Homo sapiens: one gene and its partner. The protein of the gene in region 2 interacts with the protein of the main gene of each other region in a pairwise test. Each region holds a gene or a part of one and is shown on either strand. Other genes may lie near its edges.

Region 1 (3,263 bases), on a different chromosome or scaffold from region 2:
ATTTCTCATTATACAAATGGTTATGCTGGGTCTTTAAATGCCCCTTATTTTAATAGAGCAATTAATCAGACATGATTAAATTTCTGTATTAATCCTACGTAATTTTTTTTTTTTAATCTAAGCATTTCTTAACTGAGAGGGGTCTAAATATCACTAAAGCAACAGGACATCTTTAAGGGAAAACAGCTGCAAAACAGCTTTGCATTCTAGAGTGAAAGCCTTAGTTTTAGCCTATGGTATATTTTGTTCCCTTTTAAGACCACAGTGGTAGTTTTTTTCCAAAGAGAACTAATAAACATATTAAGCTATATGGTAATTTTTCTAACACCCACATTGGTTTCGGTCAGAAGAATTTTACTGGAACCTGGAGGTATCCCATTCTTCATAATAATAAAAAAGAAATGTAGTGTATAAAAGCTCCAGGTTACATTACTAAGCAACGACATTTCCGGGAGTGAATATACTTCCTGTATTCCGCAAGCTGCTTCAAGTACATATTCGACGGCCATCTGTGCTTTTCAACAAAACTGCGTTCTTCCACTGAAGTTTTAAGAAAAAGACTGTTAACCGAATATGTTTTATTATGGATCAATTAAGATATCAGCTATTGATTTCCTCTTTAATAGATGAGATCCAGCTCTGTGATACATCTCCTACCATTCCCACAAGTTTTCCCAAATAATTTACTACCATTTTGGTTAAATTAGTATCAGGATTTAAGTTATTATGTGACTTACAATTATATATATCTTGTCCACTACTTCGAGTAGTATTTCATTATTTTCCTTTTCTTTTTTTTTTTTTTTTGAGATGGAGTCTCATTCTGTCGCCCAGGCTGGAGTGCAGTGGCGTGATCTCAGCTCACTGCAACCTCTGCCTCCCCAGTTCAAGCAATTCTCCTGCCTCAGCCTCCCGAGTAGTTGGGACTACAGGCGTGTGACACCACGCCCAGCTAATTTTTTGTATTTTTAGTAGAGACGGGGTTTTACCTTGTTGGCCAGGATGGTCTCGATCTCCTGACCTCGTGATCTGCCTGCCTTGGACTCCCAAAGTGCTAGGATTACAGGCATGAGCCACCACGCCTGGCTTCCTTTTCTTTTCCAATAAAGCTTTTGTTTTTCCTGGATATAACGGACTTATTTTTTTTTTCCATTTATAATACTTAGTTTTCTTTTCTTTTCTTTTCTTTTCTTTTCTTTTTTTTTTTTTTCTGAGACGGAGTCTTGCTCTGTCGCCCAGGCTGGAGCGCAGTGGCGCAATCTGGACTCACTGCAAGCTCTGCCTTCCGGGTTCACGCCATTCTCCTGCCTCAGCCTCCCGAGTAGCTGGGACTACAGGCGCCTGTCACCACGCCCGGATAAGTTTTTTTGGTATAATACTTAGTTTTCTTTGTAGCTAACTTAGTCTTCCAAAGTCCTTCAAGTCCTCTCAGTTGTGCTTCCCACCCAGCCAGTCATCAGATAAGCTGTTCTTCCCTGTTGCTGCTGCCCTGCCTGCTTTCTGGACCTGCTTCCTGCCTTGGAGTTGGATCCCTCCATTCTTGAACTCCAGGTCCTTCGCTTTGTTCATTCTCTAGGTTTGGTGAAGCACAACTGTCAGAGGCATTTGAACTAGAGCAACTGCATCTTGAATAGGGGCTGGGGACAATGAGGCTGAAACCTACTGGGCTGCATTCCCAGACAGTTAGGCATTCTAGGTTACAGAATGAGATAGGAGGTCGACTCAAGATATAGATCATAAAGACCTTGCTGGAGGCCAGGCACGATGGCTCATGTCTGTAATCCCACCACTTTGGGAGGCCGAGGCGGGCGGATTATTTGAGGTCAGGAGTTTGACACCAGCCTGGCCAACATGGCAAAACCCCGTCTCTACTAAAAAAAAAAAAGAAAAGAAAAGAAAAATTAGCTGGGTGTGGCGGCACATGCCTATAATCCCAGCTACTGAGGAGGATGAGGCAGGAGAATTACTTGATTCTCCATCTACTGTTTAACCTCATCTATTATAAGTCAGATTAACAGGGTCTTGATTCAGCCTGCAGGACCATACAAACTAGCTGCTCAGCTCTAAGTTTCAAGAGGAAGCAAAGGTGACATGAGACTACTCCCTCAGTAAATATTAAAAACCAGAGAAAAGTTATTAGAGATGAGCTCTGGCAGCCAGCAAAACAAAACAAACAAAACCCCATAACACAGAACACATAATATCGAGCTAAATTAAACTGCGAGAATAATGAATCCATAAATGCCAAGGGTAACATATTCCTGTGCACCGCTGTTTGTGTTCATGAGTCCAGTATATAAAAATCTAATACTTAATGACCTATTTAACTGGGTTCTGATGTATCTGTGCCTGTACTGACATGACATCTTTTCCAGTCTCACTTTTTGATTTCTAAACACCTCTAAAAATGAAAAATTCTCAGTCAACAGAAAACAAGTTGTAGAATTCCAATAATAATTTGAGAACTTTTCAAGCTGAAGATGGACAGTTCTATAAGGAAGCTGTAGAGTGACCGTGACAAGAAACTTTCCCAACTTCAGGTGACCATGTGCAGTGGGCCAGGTGTAAAGCACTGGAGAGAAGTGACTGCGACCCTCTGGAGAGGGCATGCTCCTTTAGGTGGGCCGTCAGCGCCAAGCCACATGTTGCCACTAGGATGATGGGCCTGGGGTAGCCAGATCTTCCAATTTTTCAAAAGAAGCCAAAATATGGTTATTTTTAAATACCAGTACTATATATTTTTAACTGTGGGGTCCCAATAAAACACGTTGGCAGGCTACACCTAAACCATAGATGGCCAGTTAGTAACTATTGATTTAGACAATTAAATTCTCCCTTATCCAAAAGGCGCTTTTTTCCTCTGCCCAAGAGGATGACACCTCATAGCAGGACCCTGGACAGGAAGAGGCACTGCAGAATGAGAGTTCTCATGATTCCCTTTTAATTCCCATCAAAGGAACAGAAGGCAACATCGACACATCGTTTCCTCCTTAGCCTGCCACCTCACATCGCACTGGAAGTCCTGCTTTGCACCATGCCAGGTGTCATAACATACTTTATAGGTAATTGGGTAATACCATATAATGAAAATTCATAACTAAAAGGATTTATAGACCATCCTTCTCCCAAGGTTGTAATAGTACTCCATATATACCATATATCTATACAAGATAGTAAGTAGAAAATAATCTTATTCTTCTCTTACAAATAAGAGTGACCTCAGGTAACATAATGAAACTGGCTCCAGGACCAAAGTGCAATTC
Region 2 (3,500 bases):
TTCCGAAGATGCTTCCTGACCGTATGGCTTAGCATAGGTTCACTTTCACTTGTTCCTCCTGTAGGGAAAAAAAAAAAAATCCTAATTTTTCATTCTGATTCGGGAAGAATGAAAATGATCCTTTTTCATATTGTTTTATATAGCTTCCCAGCTTCACATCTACCCTTCCCCTTACATACACACTTGGGGCTTACATCTAGGCCTTTTCTCTACCCTAATCTTGAGGAAAAAAAAATATATCAAATAACACCATAAGAAATACCTTCAGTAACACATCATATTGTATTTACATATCTACATATCTTATCACAGCAAACTCAGTGGAGGAAAGGGCTGTAATTATCACATTTGGACTACTTCAAATTCTGAAAACTAGACTATATTTAAATAATAAAACCAATTATTACATTTACATTTAACCAAGAGATTATATAAAAATGTATTACTGGCTGGGTGCAGTGGCTCACGCCTGTAATCCCAGCACTTTGGGAGGCCGAGGCGGGCGGATCACGAGGCCAGGAGATAGAGACCATCCTGGCTACAGTGAAACCCTGTCTCTACTAAAAATGCAAACAAACAAAATTAGCCGGGCGTGGTGGCTGGCGCCTGTAGTCCCAGCTACTCAGGAGGCTAAGGCAGGAGAATGGCATGAACCCGGGAGGCGGAGCTTGCAGTGAGCCGAGATTGCGCCACTGCACTCCAGCCTGGGCGACAAAGCGAGACTCCGTCTCAAAAAAAAAAAAAGTATTACTGCTATATACCTATGTATATAGATTAATGTGTCTTTTCACGGATTCTAACAGGCTAGTTACAATGGACTGTAAGTCATGGCATTAACTCTATGTCATGACTTGTTACAAATGCACTCACAATGAATTCTTCCTGAGAGCTCTTCACTGATGCTCTGGTTACCTTCTTTGTATTTTTTAGCATTATAATAATAGCAAAGGTATTTTACAGGTGTTCTTTTTCAGGATGTTCTATCCAAATGCAAAAATGGATGAACTATTTTCCTTGAGAGAATTTATGAAATATCACTTAGGTATGAATGAATAAAGGTAGGATATGGGATGAGAAGAAAAGCTGGGGGAAAATATTCAAATCATCAAAGCTCATATTCTGCAAGAAAAGACTTGACTCCTTGGTGAAATTCAGCAGGTAAAAAAAAACAGATAGAGGTTAACCCCGTAGCATGCAACACAGCAGAGAACCAGTCCTCTACCAGACTTCACCCAGGTACCAAGAGCCAACTCTGATTGCGCCTTCAGATCTCTTATTTCCTAAGTCCTACTAGTTCTTCTTTTGCTCTGTAGCATATATATTCCTTTCTATTTCCTTTGTAAAAATCTTGGCTGGGCACGGTGGCTCACGCCTGTAATTCCCAGCACTTTGGGAGGCCAAGGCGGGCAGATCACCTGAGGTCGGGAGTTCGAGACCAGCCTGACCAACATGGAGAAACCCCGTCTCTAATAAAAATACAAAATTAGCCGGGCGTGGTGATGCATGCATATAATCCCAGCTACTTAGGAGGCTGAGGGAGGAGAATCGCTTGAACCCAGGAGGCAGAGGTTGCGGTGAGCCGAGAACGCGCCACTGCACTCCAGCCTGGGTAACAAGAGCGAAACTCTGTCTCAAAAAAAAAAAATCTTATTTAAGTCCATTTTCCCTAACTTGGGACTATTACAATGACTTCTTAAGTTTTCTGAAAAATGTTTTCTATACTTGGCTAATTGTAGATTCACTTTCAATTTTTCCTATAGCAAAAACAAGTAGAAATCATTTTAATTTTTGCAACCTAAAATAAATAACTTATATGAGTAGAATAAAAACCAAACTCTAAAAAGGCTCTTTAGAAGTTCTCCTTTTCAAGGATCCTCTAGTTCAAGCTTTACTCCTCCCCCACCCCACCAATATTAATGTGACATAGAATTTGTTTTCACCCTTAATCCAAACTTACATTTTCTATCACCTAGGCAAAAGCCTCCTACCAGACCTACTCACATCCTGTCTACTCCTATAGTCCAACCTATGTATTACCACAAGTAATATTTGTAAAGCACATTTTGGATCATACCACTCCCTTGCTCAAAACCATCATGCCCAATTCACCCTTCTTCTTAGTCCTAGAGCAAGTCCCTGATTTAGCTGTCATTCAAGGTTCTCTGCACTAAAGTCTCAATTTACCTTTTGTCTTATCTCAGTAGTCGGACCCAAAGTAGACTACTGATCATTTCTAAAAACATGCTCTGGGTTTTCCTGTATCTAAACTTTTTAGTTCATGCTATTCTCCCTGCAGGAAATGCCCTCCTTAATTTTCACCGTTGAAATGTTATCCATCCTTAAATTTAAATGTCCAGCTTAAAGGCCACCTACTTTATGAAGCCCTTCTCGGTGTTCTTAGCTGAAGTTTCTTGCCTGAACTCTCTGGGCTTTTTTGGGGCCCTTAGCACTTGCTGCTTTTCTTTTGGTTCAGTTGCTATGAAAATGTAAGTTCCGTGAGGCTCTCAGGGTTATTCCTCTTAGCACCTCTCAGTGCCTTGTGCCCCAGTTGCTCCACATATACATTACACAAATTACTCAACCACTCAGTATTATGTTGGCCAAATAGCATCACTGAAAATAGCCTATTTCAGTCTTCCTCGAAATATAAATTATTTGGAGATTGTTTCAAACCTATTCCTATGCATATATAAAACAGGCCCTTACCTATAATTTCTTTGCAAGGATTTTCAGGAGTGATGGGGACTCTGCAAGCTGGACACTGGCTATTATTCTTCAACCACAAATCAATACAAATCGAACAAAATACATGGTTGTTGATGCATATGACAGGCTGACGTACCTTTGAAAAAAGAAATCACTTTTAGTACAGGACAACGGTCATAATTAGAAGATCAAATGGTTTAGTTTACAGCAAACTGCTTCTCTAGATTATAGCAGAGTAGGAGTTTAAGAAGGGATATCTAGCGCTTTTAAAAACACTGCTTCTGTTGGTCACTTTTCTTTTTACACATGTTTAACAGAGATACTAGATGAGATACTGGATCATGGAGACTGAAGCTTTTGACATATAAAATGCTTTATTTTGTACCTAAACCACAGAATTCATGCCAAAAAGAAAATGCTTTTTGTTCCACTAAGGCTGGGACAATTTTGCTCAAACTCTTCTATTTTAGCATTATAGAACAGCAGGATTAGGTTTTTGAAAATATCATTTAGCACAATCATCCATCTGATGCCCGAATCCTTTTCTCAATTCATTCCACTGTTACAGAATAACAGCAACTATTAAATATTGTATTGATACTTTACTAGAAATTCCCCAAAACCAAACAGTAATGAAAGCTAAAACAACCCAAAAGGCATGAGCTTCACTCTCAAGTAGTTTATAATCTAAACAGCAAACAATGCAGACAGAATTACTGAGATACACCAAATACACAAATCTTTGACTCCAGGCTCCATTTAAACAAGCACAAATAATAATACCTTACATTTAT

The links. Proteins that work in one complex are often made in the same cells at the same time.
Region 1: the proteins of OBI1 (region 2) and RHOBTB3 interact in a two-hybrid assay, tested with the Homo sapiens proteins (one large-scale study listed by IntAct).

The regions. Positions count from the first base shown.
Region 1 is NC_000005.10:95,790,336-95,793,598, reverse strand, and holds part of RHOBTB3 (rho-related BTB domain-containing protein 3), read right to left. Parts: intron 541-3,263; coding exon 425-540; 3' UTR 1-424. UniProt on the Homo sapiens protein: Rab9-regulated ATPase required for endosome to Golgi transport. Involved in transport vesicle docking at the Golgi complex, possibly by participating in release M6PRBP1/TIP47 from vesicles to permit their efficient docking and fusion at the Golgi.
Region 2 is NC_000013.11:78,642,156-78,645,655, forward strand, and holds part of OBI1 (ORC ubiquitin ligase 1), read right to left. Parts: intron 2,843-3,500; coding exon 2,707-2,842; intron 1,398-2,706; exon of another isoform or gene 871-1,397; intron 59-870; coding exon 1-58. UniProt on the Homo sapiens protein: E3 ubiquitin ligase essential for DNA replication origin activation during S phase.